Regions from separate parts of the Homo sapiens genome. Here region 2 is linked to region 1. The links come from fine-mapping of genetic effects on gene expression. Tissue or cell type: whole blood. Region 1 holds a variant in brackets; the other region holds the start of a gene. All regions are shown on one strand. Distances are between the middles of the regions.

Evidence for each region. PIP is the estimated chance that this variant, and not a neighbour inherited with it, causes the effect.
Region 2: it holds the start of PRSS36, and the variant in region 1 is fine-mapped to the expression of PRSS36 in whole blood (TOPMed, PIP above 0.99).

The regions. Positions count from the first base shown.
Region 1 is chr16:30,939,238-30,947,237 of GRCh38, forward strand. FBXL19 (F-box and leucine rich repeat protein 19) reads left to right here. Exons shown (of 11, transcript NM_001382779.1): 8 at 2,879-3,042; 9 at 3,138-3,299; 10 at 7,493-7,711; 11 at 7,815-8,000. The coding sequence ends at 7,993. Among named protein-coding and RNA genes, the nearest start is that of ORAI3, 5.8 kb to the right of the region's middle. RefSeq lists a silencer at 2,773-2,902 and an enhancer at 3,327-4,269. The variant C/T (reference allele first, on the strand shown) is at 4,230.
Region 2 is chr16:31,145,268-31,153,267 of GRCh38, forward strand. PRSS36 (serine protease 36) reads right to left here and starts at 4,799. Exons shown (of 15, transcript NM_173502.5): 1 at 4,732-4,799; 2 at 4,429-4,464; 3 at 4,196-4,231; 4 at 3,806-3,968; 5 at 3,128-3,408; 6 at 522-688. The coding sequence starts at 4,768. RefSeq lists enhancers at 3,433-3,970, 3,971-4,506, 4,507-5,043.

The DNA.
Region 1 (8,000 bases):
ATTTTTTGTATTTTTAGTAGAGATGGGGTTTCACCGTGTTAGCCAGGATGGTCTCAATCTCCTGACCTCGTGATCTGTCCACCTTGGCCTCCCAAAGTGCTGGGATTACACCACACTTGGACTTTTGTGTTTATTTTTAAGATTAACATATTTATGTGAAACAATACTGGGGTTTTTTTTTTTGTTTTTTTTTTGAGACGGAGTCTCGCTCTGTCGCCCAGGCTGGAGTGCAGTGGCACGATCTCGGCTCACTGCAAGCTCCACCTCCCAGATTCACGCCATTCTCCTGCCTCAGCCTCCCGAGTATCTGGGACTACAGGCGCCCTCCACCACGCCCAGCTAATTTTTTGTATTTTTTTTTTAGTAGAGACGGGGTTTCACTGTGTTAGCCTGGATGGTCTTGATCTCCTGACCTAGTGATCCACCCACCTCGGCCTCCCAAAGTGCTGGGATTACACGCATGAGCCACCGCGCCCGGCAACAATACTGGTTTTAAGTGCAAAGAGGAGATGATTCAAAGATAAATCATGTTACGCAGATAAGTGAACAGCAAATACTGGAGCTTGGGAATCACTGCCCCAGCCCAGGGCTTCTACAAGGAAAAGCCTTTCAGAGTCATGAGGGCAGGGAGGGAGGCAAGAGAAAGCTTCCCTTGGGAGGCCAAGGGAAGGATCGCTTGAGCTCAGGAGTTCAAAACCAGCCTGGACAACCTTGTCTCTACTAAAAATAAAAAAATAGGCCAGGCACAGTGGCTCACGCCTGTAATCCCAGCACTATGGGAGGCCAAAGTGGGCAGATCACCTGAGGTCAGGATTTCGAGACCAGCCTGGCCAACATGGAGAAACCCTATCTCTACTAAAAATACAAAAAATTAGCCGGGCGTGGTGGCGCATGCCTGTAATCCCAGCTACTCTGGAGGCTGAGGCGGGAGAATCGCTTGAACTTGGGAGATGGTGGTTTCAGTGAGCCAAGATCACACCATTGCACTCCAGCCTGGGCAACAAGAGCGAAACTCTGTCTCAAAAAAAAAAAAAAAGTCAGGTGTGGTGGCATGTGCCTGTAGTCCCAGCTACTCAGGAGGCTGAGGTAGGAGGATGGCTTGAGCCCAGGAGTTTAAGGTTGCAGTGAGCTGTGATCGCAGTACTGCACCCCAGCCTGGGTGACTAAGCAAGACACTGTCTCAAGAAAAAAAAAAAAAAGCTTCCTGGGCCTGCTGCTTCTGACACAGTCTATTGAGTCTCAGAGGCATTTCTGGACATGCCTTTGAGAACTACTGAACTCAGAGAAGAGAGTTCTCAAACTGAGTCCAAAGGAACTTCAGTGTACTACAAAATGTTACTAGATTACCTTGGGAGAGGTGGGGAAGGATTCCTGGGGAAGTACGTTTGAGAGGCCCTTCTCCAGTTCACTGCATGTTTTTTGTTTGTTTGTTTGTTTGTTTGTTTTTGAGATGGAGTCTCTCACTGTTGCCCCAGCTGGTGTGCAGTGGTGCGATCTCGGCTCGCTGCAATCTCCGCCTCCCGGGTTCAAGTAATTCTCCTGCCTCAGCCTCCCGAGTAGCTAGGATTACAGGCGCCCGCCACCATGCCCAGCTAATTTTTTGTACTTTTAGTAGAGACAGGGTTTCACTAGTAGAACAGCCAGGCTGTTCTCGAATTCCTGACCTCATGATCCACCCACCTCGGCCTCCCAAAGTGCTGGGATTACAGGTGTGAGCCACTGCACCCAGCCCACTGCATGTTAGATAGTCTGTTGAGGCCTGTGGAGTGCTCGGGTTAGGAAACCTGTTTAATGTTGCTTAGGACTCGTTCATCTTTGTAGCTTCAATACTTGGGACCTATAACGCTTTCTATAATCAGAGTGAATAAATGAAATGCTGTAGATGAGGAGGTGGGGGAGAGTGGTCAGTGGAAGCTTTAAGTAGTTACTAGCTTGATTCATTCATTACAAATGGGCAGCTGGGTGCAGTAGCTCATGCCTGTAATCCCAGTGTTTTGGGAGGCCAAGGCAGGAGGATCGCTTGAGGCCAGGAGATCAAGACCAGCCTAGGCAACATAGTGAGACCCTGTCTCTACAAAAAAATTGTTTAAAAATTAGCCAGGCGTGGTGACATGTGCCTGTGGTCCCAGCTACTCAGGAGGCTGAGGTGGGAGGATTGCTTGAGCCCAGTAGGTTGAGGCTGCGGTGAGCCTGAGTCCAGCCTGGGTTACAGAGTGAGACCCTGTCTCAAAAAAAATTTTTTTTCAAAAAGTGGAAAACGCAAATCTGCCCTTGTGGAATTTACATTGTAGTTGGAGGAACACAGTAATGTAATAGGGAAGATATTAGGGCTGTAAGTCCAGCTGCGGGCAGCTGGCTGTCAAGATGGGACAGGTGTGGATCAGAAGCAGAGATGAGTAAAGGAGGCAAGGACCCATGAGCACCAGAACTCAGTCAGGAATCAAGAAGCCCAAGGGTGGCTGGAGACGACTGGATAACACCAGTCCCCTTGGCATGACATCAGGCAGCATGCGTGGCATTTGTGTATGTGTTGGGCAGCACACTTTCTATGCTGGGAGGCCCACAGCTGGGATGAGCCCATGTGACCTGACAGCTGCCCTGTGGGCAGGCAGAGTGGGGGGGCTATTGCCTTCAATCATAAACGAGGCTTCTGAGGCTCAGGGAGAGGAACAGACTTGCCCAGGGTCTCATTTCCAGTTAGTGATGGAGTTGGGTTCCAATCCCAGTGCTCTTGGCTGAGGTCAGGTGCTTCTTGCTACCCTGTTGTCTGTGTGGCCAGAAGAGAGCTGGGGTGCACCCTTGGAGCTGGGGAGCCTGGGAACTGTGGGCTGCTGAGAGCTGAGGGCTGAGGTCTCTGTCTCCCCCCTATGGCCGCCAGGTGCTATGACAAGCGTCTGTGGCCTCGAATGGACCTGAGCCGGCGGAAGTCACTGACCCCGCCCATGCTCAGTGGTGTGGTTCGCCGCCAGCCCCGTGCCCTGGACCTCAGCTGGACAGGTGTCTCCAAGAAGCAGCTCATGTGGCTTCTGAACCGACTACAAGGTAGGGTGTGTGGTACGGAGGACAGGGTGGGGACAGGGACAGGCCTGGGATGGAGTCCTCACAGCACCTGCTTCCTGACTGCCCCCTCTCCGCAGGCCTGCAGGAGCTGGTGCTCTCTGGCTGCTCCTGGCTCTCTGTCTCTGCCCTGGGCTCAGCCCCACTGCCAGCCCTGCGGCTCCTGGACCTCCGCTGGATCGAGGATGTTAAAGACTCCCAGCTCCGGGAGTTGCTGCTGCCTCCACCAGACACCAAACCAGGTGCAACCTCTGTTTGCTTTTCTGGAGAATGGGCTGGGCAAGGGTAGGGTAGGAGGCCTCTCAGGTCTCTTCTGACTCATGCTGGATGGTAAAGTATTTGAAGAAAGGAAAGAATACATGAGTTTGAATAGGAAGGCCCTGGTTGGGCATTATTCATTCATTCACCCACCTGCTGTGTACTTTGAACTGAGTCTTGAAAGGAACAGGGTTTTCCCAGGGAGTGTGAGACTCAGCAGTTTGGTGGGGCAGGAGGCCCATATTGGCAGAGGGGGATGCTGGGAGCAGAGGCCATCTCTCTTCATCTACTTAAATCTCATCATCCTTTAGGCCTGGGTATAAATGCCACTTCCTCCAAGAAGCTCTCCCTGATCCCACCCCACATTGAGCTCAGAGTCCCTCTCAGCTTTGAGAGCAGCCCGCCAGCATAATACTGGGCAATTGTGGAGTGCCTTGATGCACATCTGTGCCCTCCTGCCAGGGTCTCCAGCTCCCTGAGGGCAAGCGCTGGCTGGTCCCCCAGCACGTTCTCAGTGGCTGCTCCATAGATAGCTGTTGAATGAATAACTTGAATGAGCAATCAGGATGGGAGAGGTCTAGTTTGAGGAAAGATTTTCAAAAGGAGATTTGCAGTCCCCTGAAATAAGATAATCCTTTTGTTTGTTTTTGTTTTTTGAGACCATCTGGCTCTGTCACCCAGACTGGAGTGCAGTGGCAAGATCTCGGCTTACTGCAACTTATGCCTCCTGGGTTCAAGTGATCCTCCCCACCTCAGCCTCCTGAGTAGCTGGGCCTACAGGCGTGTGCCACCACGCCTGGCTAATTTTTTTGTAATTTTTTTTTTTTTTTTTTTTTTTTTGAGGTGAAGTCTTGCTCTGTCGCCCAGGCTGGAGTGCAGTGGTGCTATCTCGGATCACTGCAAGCTCCACCTCC[C/T]GGGTTCACGCCATTCTCCTGCCTCAGCCTCCCAAGTAGCTGGGACTACAGGCGCCCGCCACCACGCCTGGCTAATTTTTTGTATTTTTAGTAGAGACGGGGTTTCACTGTGTTAGCCAGGATGGTCTTGATCTCCTGACCTCATGATCCGCCTGCCTCGGCCTCCCAAAGTGCTGGGATTACAGGTGTTAGCCACCGCACCCGGCCTGTAATTCTTATAGAAACAGGGTTTCATCATGTTGTCCAGGCCGATCTCGAACTCCTTGTCTCAAGTGATCTGCCCACCTCTGCCTTCCAAAGTGTTGGGATTATAGGCGTGAGCCACCACACCTGGCCAAAAGAATCTTTTCTTTTGGAGTTCTTTCACCCCTCTCTTTCATAGTTCCCTTCTTCCCACCATGCCCCCTCCACAACAGCCCTGAAAGGGGAGAATAGAGAAGCAACTAAGATTCTTCCCGTATTCTAGATGAGGCACTGGAGGCCCAGAGGGATTGACTGCTGCAGGTCACCCAGTCAGGCCAGAGCACTCAGCCATTGTCCACTCTTACCAGAATTGGACTGAGTTGGAGAGCTATGGGTGGGGGGTAAGGTGGGCATTGGGAATGGTGCATCCTGGGAGGTGAGAAAGTGCTGGCTGGTCCATTTCCTCCTGCTGGAATTCAGTTCAGTTCAGCCCTTTATCAGGAGCTCAGGAAGGTGGGCCTTTTTTTTTTTTTTTTTTTTTTTTTTTAGTTTTTAAATTTTTTTTTTAACTTTTAAGTTCATGGGTATATGTGCAGGTTTGTTAAATGGGTAAACTTGTGTCATGGGGGTTTGTTGTACCGATTATTTCATCACCCAGGTATTAAGTCTATTTACCATTAGTTATTTCTCCTGATCCTCTCCCTCCTCCCTCTGAAAGGCTCCAGGGTGTGTTGTTCCCATGGATGTGTCCATGTGTTCTCATCATTTAGCTCCCATTTCTAAGTGAGAACATGCAATTTCTGTTCCTGCATTAGTTTGCTAAGGATAATGGCCTCCAGCTCCTTCCATGTTCCTGTAAAGGACATGATCTTGTTCTTTTTTATGGCTGCATAGTATTCCATGGTGTATATGTACCACATTTTCTTTATTCATTCTTTCATTGATGGGCATTGAGGTTGATTCCATGGCTTTTACTATTGTGAACAGTGCCATACACCTTCAAACTCTTGCCCAGCTTAAATGCCACCACCTCAGTGAAATCCTCACTGATGCCTACTCCTCCCTGCCCAAGCCAGAAGTGACTTCTCTTTCCTCTGCTTTCCTCTATGGGCCTTTCCTCCTTGTGCCTTTAGCTGTGGCCCAAGGTTGAGGGCATCTGTAAAGGTATCCCCTCTCCAGGCGCTTGGCTCCTCAAAGACAGGAGGAGGGGTTAAAATTTAGGGCTTGCAAAGTCAAGTGCCCATAGAGTTGGCCTGGGAGGTAACAGAAGTGATGCATTGGTGTAGGACATTAGGGAGTGGCACCTAGCCACCCAGCTCCCCTCAGTCATCATCTGGTGGGAAGGAGTGCCTAGTGAGGCCACATCTTACGATTCTTCAAGGAAAAGCTCAGTATGTAAATTTATTTATAAAAATGTCCTTTTTGTAGTGTTAGTCATTAAGGAAGTTTTTAGCATTCTGTAGACTCCATAAAACATGTTTGGAGGGCAGCCTCATGGTTTGTGCCATCTGATCTATTAATAGTTTATCTTAGGGATAGGCTGGTGCCTGGGAGGCAGACAACACTGTGGTAAGAGTTCAGATTCAGCATCACCAGGCCTGGGTTTCCTGGCTGTAAACAGGAATGATGATCAGAGATCTTGTCTCCCAAGGCTGTGGTTCTTAAAGTGTGGTCGGGGGACCAGCAGCATCCACAAAACTGGAGAACTTGTTAAAAAAGTAAACTCTGGGCCGGGCATGGTGGCTCACACCTGTAATCCTAGCACTTTGGGAGGCCGAGGTGGGCAGATCACTTGAGGTCAGGAGTTTGAGACCAGCCTGGCCAACATGGTGAAACCCCATCTCTACTAAAAAAATACAAAAAATTAGCCAGGCGTGGTGGCAAATGCTTTTAATCCCAACTACTTGGGAGGCTGTGGCAAGGAGATTGCTTGAACCTGGGAGGTGGAAGTTGCAGTGAGCCGAGATTGCACCACTGTACTCCATCCTGGGTTACAGAGTGAGACTCCATCTCAAAAAAAAAAAAAAAAAAGTAAACTCTGGTCAGGTGCGGTGGCTCAGGCCTGTAATCCCAGCACTTTGGGAGGCCAAAGTGGGAGGATCAAGGCTACAGTGAGCTACAGGGAGGTTGAGGCTGCAGTAAGCTGTGATTGTACCACTGCACTCCAGCCTGGGTGACAGAGCAAGACTCCGTCTCGGGGAAAAAAAAAAAAAAAAAAAAAAAAGGAAAACGTATGTATGTCAGAAAAATGCATATAATATGTCAAATGGTGAGAAAAAGAGGAAAAAATGATGCAAGGAAGTGGTAGGAGTGTGGAGAATTACATTAGTTTTTGCATTGCTATAAAGAAATACCTTCGGCTGGGTAATTTATAAAGAAAAGAGGTTGAATTGGCTCAGGATTCTGCAAGCTGTACAGGAAGTATCGTGCCTGCGTCTGCTCAGCTTCTGGGGAAGCCTCACGTAGCTTTTACTCTTGATGGAACGTGAAGGAATCGGCATGTCACATGGCAAGACAGCAAGAGAGAGGAGGGGAGGTCACAGACTCTTTTATTTATTTATTTATTTATTTTGAGATGGAGTCTCGCTCTGTTGCCCAGGCTGGGGTGCAGTGGCACAATCGTGGCTCACTGCAACCTCCACCTCTCGGGTTCAAGTGATTCTCCTGCCTCAGCCTCCTGAGTAGCCGGGATTACAGGCGCCTGCCACCATACCCGGCTAATTTTTGTATGTTGAGTAGAGACAAGGTTTTGCCATGTTAGGCCAGGCTAGTCTCGAACTCCTGACCTCAAGTGAGCCGCCTGCCTCGGCTTCCCAAAGTGCTAGGATTACAGGCATGAGCCACCACGCCTGGCAGAATATTGTAGTCTCAAATACAATAATCATGGAAGGCCTCCGAGGAGGTGATGTGAGGAGTGGACAGATGAGGTCAGGCCATGAGGGTGTTTTTGAGAAGAGCAAGCCACAGAGTGCACCAGGTCACTCACTTATGTGGGAAGCAGGTGGAGGGCAGATGGTCTGGATACCTGGGCGCAGGGATGGGAGTGGCCAGGAGTGCTGACCTCTCATCTGGCTGCCCAGGGCAAACAGAGAGCCGTGGTCGGCTGCAGGGGGTGGCAGAACTGCGTCTGGCAGGTTTGGAGCTGACAGATGCCTCCCTGCGTCTCCTGCTGCGTCACGCACCCCAGCTGAGCGCCCTGGACCTGAGCCACTGCGCCCACGTCGGGGACCCCAGTGTTCACCTCCTCACGGCCCCCACGTCCCCACTCCGCGAGACCCTGGTGCACCTCAATCTTGCTGGTAAGCACGGTCCCCCATCCGTCCTGCCAGCCTGTGGATCCCCACGGCCAGTGCCAACCCCTTGCTCACCTGCCTGGTCTCAGCTCCACTGCCCCATCCCCAGGTTGCCACCGCCTAACGGACCACTGCCTCCCGCTGTTCCGCCGCTGCCCTCGTCTACGCCGCCTAGACCTGCGCTCCTGCCGCCAGCTCTCACCCGAAGCTTGTGCCCGGCTGGCAGCTGCCGGGCCCCCTGGCCCCTTCCGCTGCCCTGAGGAGAAGCTGCTTCTCAAGGACAGCTAGTTGGGCG
Region 2 (8,000 bases), 210 kb after region 1:
GAGGCTGAGGCAGGAGAATTGCGTGAACCCGGGAGGCGGAGGTTGCAGTGAGCTGAGATCATGCTACTGCACTCCAGCCTGGGCGACTGAGCAAGACTCCGTCTCAAAAAAAAAAAAAAAAAAAAAGGAACTCCGTCTCAAAAAATAAATTAAATAAATAAATAAATAAATACATAAATAAATTCACTTGGCCAGGCGCAAGTGAATGCAAAATTAGCAGTCTGTGGTGGTGCATGCCTGTAATCTCAGCTACTTGGGGGGCTGAAGCACAAGAGTCGCTTGAGCGGTGGGGGTGGAGCAGGGGGAGGTTGCAGTAAGCCGAGATTGCGCCACTGCAGTCCAGCCTGGACGACAAAGTGAGGCTCTGTCTCAAAATACACAAACAAAAAACTTCACGTCAACCCCATCCCTTGGCAATCTTGCCCTCCTTTTGCAGATGAGGCTTGGAGAGATGTCCTTTATCTATTTGTCACTGGTTAGGACTCTGGCCCTGCCAGGCAGGTGCCGGGGCCTTCCCTCACCTGGCAGGTGTCCCTGCGGCCCTCTGGGTAGCCAGCACACAGCATCCCTGGCAATATCTGGAGAGTGAGGTTGAAGGGACCGGGCTGGCTGTAGAGACATTGACAGGTGGCCTCGCCCAGCAGCCTTAGCTCCACTTCCTGTAGCACCCAGGGGAGAGGCAGAGGATCTGGAGGCAGAACCAGAGAGCAGGTGCTGTGAGGCAGGTATGGCATCCCCAGTTCCCAGGGTTCAGGTTTGCCTCCTGCGGCTGCTTCTTGGACATCAGCTAGATGCCCCATGGCCTCTCAGCCCACCACATTCACCACATCTCCTCCTGCTTCTATCTGTTCTTTCTACTTTTTCATCTCAGGAATGGTCTCATCAAGCTCCTAGTGAGAGCTGCCATGCATGGTTGTGCAGGTTGTGCACTGCAACAAAGGATGCAATGTAGGGACTAAAACCATTAAGTTCTGAGCTCTCACGTGGAGTTGTGTTGGTCCAGAGACATCTTTTCACAGAGATGCCATACGGACTTGACATGGTCCTGTCCTGAGTTGCCAAGCATGGAATCTGGGTGTCATCCCTGTCTCCTCTCTCAACTCCCCTCCTCCAGTCAGTTCCCAGTTCATGAAAACCTCTCATTTGTGACGTCTTGGCATTCTAAACAACTACACTAGTTGAGGCTGCATAGCTTTGGGCCTGGATAACTGACCCAGCCTTCTGATCCACTCTTCACTTCAGCAATGAAGAGGAATGCTACTCAAGTTCAGTTCTGATCTCACCAAGAAAAATAAACGGATCACACTGTCTAAACTTGGTGCTGCAGCCCATCCTGCTTTTGACGGAAACAGCTTCAGGATCCAGAAAGGAGTAGGGGGTGGGGGGAAGTACAGACAGAACTCCTTCCCCAACTCACTCAGAATCTGAGGTCAAAGGCGCGGTGACTCACACCTGTAATTCCAGCACTTTGGGAGGCCGAGGCAGGTGGATCACCTGAGGTTAGGAGTTCAAAACTAGCCTGCCCAACATAGTGAAACCCTGTCTCTACTAAAAATACAAAAAATTAGCTGGGCGTGGTGGTGGGTGCCTATAATCCCAGCTACTTGGGAGATTGAGGCAGTAGAATCTGCTTGAAGCTGGGAGGCGGAGGTTGCAGTGAGCCTAGATCGCGCCGTTGCACTCCAGCCTGGGCAACAAGAGTGAAACTCTGTCTCAAAAAGAAAAAAAGAATTGATGAAAAAAAGAAAAGAATTTGAGGTCAGGTGATGGCTGAAGCTGTACTTGGGGCTCACCAGGGAAGTTGGGGATTGTCCTGGGCGTCCCTGGAGCTGGTGGGGTGCTCTGGCCCTCAGTCTGATCTTAAGGTCTTCATGGCCGGGCCACAGCAGCCTTTGCAGCCCAGGTGCCTGTACCCCTCTCACTCCAGCCTGGCATCCTGGCCCTTCTTCATCTAACATGACTTATCTGGGTCCACAGGGTGGCCTTCATCTCCCCCCATCTTCCTGCAATGTACCCTCTCTTCAAAAATCTCTGCAGAAATCTCCCTCTCTGGGTGCCCATTGTTAGGATGGCCTGGCCCCATTCACACAGACTTCCTGGGGCTCACAGTGACGCTTCCTCATCACCTCCTGCCCTGATGGGACCTCCACAAGCAGAGGCTGTAGCATCTTCCCCTGTAGCACCTACCCAAAGCCCCGAGGATGGGCACAGGTCTGACCACGGCTGATGTGGATATTTGTGGGGGCCCTGGGAGCATGGAAAGCTTGGGTGATGGGGATGATGGGGATGGAGATTTGGTCTATTCCCCCCCACCTTCTAACATAATGCGTGCTTATTTATTGAATTTGTTGCTTGTCTATCTCCTAGGATGTAAACTCTGAAAAGGCAGGATTTTGGCTTTTTATGTTCACTGGTGTCTCTCTAATGCCTAACACGGTGCCTGGCATGTAGAAGGTGCTCAAGAAATATCTTGAGTGAAAGAATGATTGAATGAATGATGGTGGGTAGGAAGAAGAGAGGAGGTGGGGAGTAGAGAGATGAGTGGGGGTGGATGGAATGAGAGGAAGGCGGATGGGAGGGAGGCACAGACTGGCATTTGCTGAATATCTATTATAGGCCAGCCTTATGCTGTAGTGCTTTACTATAGATTACCTGAGGTGAAATATGTAAAGTGCATTGGTTATTGCTATGCCAGGCACTGTACTATGAACTTTACATGGATTTTCTCATTTAATCCACTCAACCACCCCTTGAAGTGGGTATGGCTATTTTCCTCGTGTTACAGATGAGGAAATGTACTGGGTGAAGTGCTTTGTCTGACATGTTAGAGCTGGGATGGGAACCCTAGTCGGAGCCTAAACCCAGGAAAGAAAAAACTGGAAGGACAGGTAAGGAGGGAATGGGGTGCGTGTGGGTGATTCCGTGGTCTTAGTTTGAGAATCCTTGCAGGGAGAAGGCTACATGGAGATCGGTGTGGGATTCATCCACCGACCCGCAGAAACCTACCCTCCAACGCTCCCCGCAGGCTCCGCTCCGTGGCCCCACCTCCTGAGGCCCCGCCCTAGGAACCTCACCTCTCGAAGCCCCACCTCCCCGAGGCCCTCCCCTCTTGTCCCGTCCCACTCACCTGCCTCCTGGACGTCTCCCCAGCCGGTGGCCCAGCAGGCGGTGCCGTGCACGAAGCGGTGTGAGGCGCGGGGCAGGCAGACAGGCCACACGGCGGGGCCCAGGCTGGCGGGTGAGGCCAGGCGCAGCAGGGCCAGGTCGGCGCCCAGCTCCACTTGGCTGTAGTTGGCCGGCACCACGATGGCGGCCACTGCGCGGGTGTGCGCGCCGTCCAGGGGCCCGTCCTGGGAGTGCACGCCCAGCAGTACCGACCACTCGGCCGCGGGCTCCAGCGTCCCATTCCTGCGCTCGACCGGGGCAGTAGGAGGTTAGGTTGACCCTATGGAGGGGGCAGACCCTCGTTGGGGGCAGGGGCTCAGAGCCAGAGGGGCAGGTGCTATCCGATCCAGATTTGGTGCTGATACTCCTCAAAGGGGAAGAGCAAATCCGATTTGGAGCTGGTGGTGGGGGGGTCATTGGAAAGATGGGATTCAGACCCGGATATTGAGTGGAGTGGTGGGACCAGTCCGGCAGCCTTGCCCCACTCGGAACCATGATGCCTCGAATAGCACCTCGCTTTGGGGACAGCTTGGCTCCAAATTATCCTTGAGGACGGAAGTGGGGCGGGAGGAGGGGACCAACTGCGGGGGCGGGGGCCAGCTTTTGGCGGAGAGGGGCCAGGACCAGGGCGAATACTCACGTCATGAAACAGTGAGCAGCGGAGAGGACCCAGGAGGGGGCGATGAGGGAGCCCCCGCAGATGTGGCCACCTCCATGGTGCAGGCTCACTTGCCAAGGCCAGGTGCCCGGCTGCGCGTTTGAGCCCCCCACGATGCGGGCCGAGGGCTCAGGGCGCCCGCAGTCTGCAACGGGGAGCCGTGGAAGCCAAAGCTCCCCTCGGGTTCCCCACTCCAGAAGCCCAGGTAACTCAGGACGAAGGCCCGTCCTCCACCCACTTCAGTTTGCCCCTCTGAACAAAGAACATAGAGGACCCAGGCTTGTCTACATTTCTGGTCTTTTCCACCTCCCTCATGGCCTGACCAGCCTTAGCCTCCTTTAAGGTCTGAGGGTGCCAAGGCCTCTTCCTTACCCAGATCTTCAGGTTCTTCCTGGGTAGGACTGAGAGCTGGGAGCCAGAGGGGAAAGAGAGGAGGACACTTGTGACTTCCAGGCCTGCACCGCCCAGCCCCACTTCCTGCTCTCCAACCCCCGACCCTATCTTCCCACTTCCCTGTCCGTTCAGCAACCCCTGCCAGCACCCATGCCAGTCCTCTGGTCTTTTCTGCCTCTGCACGTGACTTTCCCCCAGTCCGGCTACCTTACCTGAGTCCTGGAAGGCTCCTGGGATGGGACTGATGACTGGAAAGACAGAGGTAGGCAGGAAGAGGCTGGCGACTCGCACTCAGTATGTGCCCTCCCTGACTCCCTCCCCCAGCCTCCTAGCCTCCGTCTCCCCAGGGCACCCAGGCCTCCCTCTCCCTCCTCTGATACATCCTCGCCTTCTGCTGCCTCACTTCCTTCTCTCTGACTTCCTGCTCCCCACACAGAAACCAGGAATCCTGCTCTCCAGCCCCCCAGATGCCAGGACCCAGGCCCTTTGCAGCCACTCTTGTCCCCTGAGGTTACCAAGCATCACAAGGGGGAGGAGCAGGTGCCGGGCCATGGCGCTAGAGTCAGCGGAGGCAGAGCCAAGTGAAGGTCTGCTCCCTGCAGGGCTCTGTCACTGCCCAGGCAGCCCGTGACTCCTGATGGTCCCAGGGGCAGCCCCACCCTCCCTGGCTGGAGCCCATCTCTGGGAATCTGAGAGGATCTGGGGCTGGAAGGGGGAAGCTGGGGAGCCTGAAGGCCCCACCCAGAGCCCTGCGCACATCTCATGTCTCTGGAGGCCCAGGGTGGGGGTGGAGGACAGGTGTCCTAGCTCCTGGACACCTGTTGGGTGGGAGAGGGAGGGATGAAAAACACTGCAGGCAAAGGTCAAAGAGGAGGACAGTGTTCTGTGTCCTTGGTGAGCAGTGGCCCTTAGGACAGGGGAAGTGGCCCCTCACGGGCATGACTCATCGGAGACCTCACCTCTGTTTGGGGTGCGGCTGCCCCAGTGGCTTGGCCTTTTCTTCTCACACAGCTCTGGTTACTGGAGCTGCTGGCCAGGTCTGGGACAGGAGCCCTAGGGAATTCAATCCCATCCCAACAAAAGGATCACAGATTCCAGCAGGTTGGGCAGGGCATAGGGACCCTGGGAGGGGGCTGGGCAGGCTGGCGAGGCTGAAAAAGCCTCCACCCTGCTCTGTGTTCCAGTGACAATGCTCTTAGCTGCCCTGTCACTTACTCTGTGTGACTTTGGGAAAGTAACCCAACCTCTTGGTGTGTATCAGTAAGAGCCAGTTTAAGGGACATATGACTTGGCCGAGCACGGTGGCTCACTCCTGTGATCCTAACACTCTGGGAGACTGAGGTGGGAGGATTGCTTGAGGCTAGGAGTTCAAGACCAGCCTGGTCAACATAGCAAGACCCCATCTCTACAAAAAATTAAAAAATACAAAAATTATGAACTGCAGGGCGTGGTGGTGCACGTCTGTATCCCAGCTACTCGGGAGATGAGGTGGGAGGATTGCTTGAGCCTGGGAGGTCGAGGTTGCAGTGAGCTATGATTGTGCCACTGCACTCCAGCCTGGGTGACAAAGCGAGACCCTGTCTCAACAACAACAACAAAAAGAAAAAAAAAAAGAAGAATAAGAAGAAGAAAGAAACATATGGCTCTTCAAAGAGGAGTTGAAGAGAGTTTAAGGAAGAAACTATTTATAGAAGTGTAGGCAGGGTCAAAGGAAACCAAAGAGGCTGGGTGGCTCACGGCTGTAATCCCAGCACTTTGGTAGGCCGAGGCGGGCAGATCACCTGAGGTCAGGAGTTCAAGACCAGCCTGGCTAACTTGGAGAAGCCCCATCTATACTAAAAATACAAAAATTAGCCGAGTGTGGTGGAACTCACCTGTAATCCCACCTATTAGGGAGGCTGAGGCAGATAAAAATGCTTGAACCCAGGACGTGGAGGTTGCAGTGAGCCAAGATAGCGCCGTTGCACTCTAGCCTGGGTGACAAGAGCGAACTCCGTCTCACAAAAAAAAAAAAAAAAAGGAAACCAAAGAGGGATGGTAACGCATCCTGGGGCCAGCAATAATAGAGAGCCCTTGCTACCTGCTGGCCTGAAGAGGCAGAGAGGGGGCAGTTACTGGAACCCAGCAAGAGCTGCAGCTATGGAAGAGATAGCTGTTAGGAGCCGTGGCCTTCAATAGAGAAATGCAGCCTTTACCAGCAGAGAGGGAGTGGGGAAAGAAAAATCCCCATCTCACTCTCATCTCATCCTCTCTATTTTTAATTAAACCAATTAAAAAATTTTAGAGACACGGTCTCACTCTGTCACCCAGGCTGGAGTGCAGTGCTGTGATTATAGCTCACTGTAACCTCGAATTCCTGGGCTTAAGCGATCCTCTGGCCTCAGCCTCCTGAGAAGCTGGGACTACAGGCACGCACCACCATACCCAGCTAATGTTTTTTATTTTTGTAGAGATGGGGTCTTATTATGTTGCCCAGGCTGGTCTCAAACTCCTGTCTCAAGCGATCTTGCTGCCTCAGTCTTCCAAAAGTGCTGGGATCCTCCCATCCTCTGATCACCCCCTGGCTCTTTTCATTGAAACCTCCCAGAGGCCAGAGTTCAAGGGAGACCATTATATGGTCCATAAAGGTCACTCTTAGGGAACAAATCAGGGTGGACAGCAGAAATGCAGGGTCAACCCAGGAATATTTACACATGTGTATCTATCTTCTTACTGATAATATCAATTAATAATAATATTGGTCTATGAGTCTAGTTGCCCTAGAAAACAGGCCTAGGCAAAGCCTGCATGCTTGTGCTTAATTGGGAGGTGCAATCCCAGGGTGGCAAGATTGAGGGAAAATGAGAAGTGAGCAGGAAGAGGGAAAATGCAAATTCAGCCACCCAGCAACGGACTGGGCTCAATTGATAAACCTGCTAGCCTTAGCCTGTCCACAGGAAACGATGGAGGTAAATTGAGTCTTAACTTCAGATTTCTTAACAATGAGAGCCTCCTCAGGCATTTGTTTAACTTGCTGCTTGGGTAGCTATTTGCCCTTCAAAGGATAAATAACCAATCATTTAACCAAAACTCAGAAAAATGAGGTAATGGGCAAAGGTAGGAAAGAAGAGAGTGCAAGTGTCATTGACGCAAAACATGCACGCCCTGGAGACCCTCACCGATACATTGCTTGCTCCAATTTAGTGGTTAATAAACATTTTGGAGCTGGGCGCGGTGGCTCATGCTGGTAATCCCAGCACTTTGGGAGGCCGAGGCAGGTGGATCATGAGGTCAGGAGTTCAAGACCAGCAGCCTGGCCAACATGGTAAAACCCTATCTCTACTCAAAATTAAAAAATTAGCTGGGCATGGTGGCATGTGCCTGTAATCCCAGCTACTCAGGAGGCTGAGACAGGAGAATGGCTTGAACCCAGGAGGCGGAGGTTGTGCTCAGCTGAAATCGCACCACTGCACTCCAGGCTGGGTGATAGAGTGAGACTCTGTCTCGAAATAAATAAATAAATAAATAAAATTTTGGGGCCAGGTGCAGTGGCTCAAGCCTGTACTAGTGCTTTGGGAGGCCAAGATGGGAGGATTGCTGGAGGCCAGGAGTTCTAGACCAACCTGGGCAGCATAACGCGATCCTGTGTGTGGTGGTGTGCACCTGTAGTCCCAGCTGCCCAGGGGTTTCTCCATGTTGGTCAGGCTGGTCTCAAACTCCTGACCTCAGGTGATCCACCTGCCTCGGCCTCCCAAAGTGCTGGGATTACAGGCATGAGCCACCGTGCCCAGCCAAGACAATGATT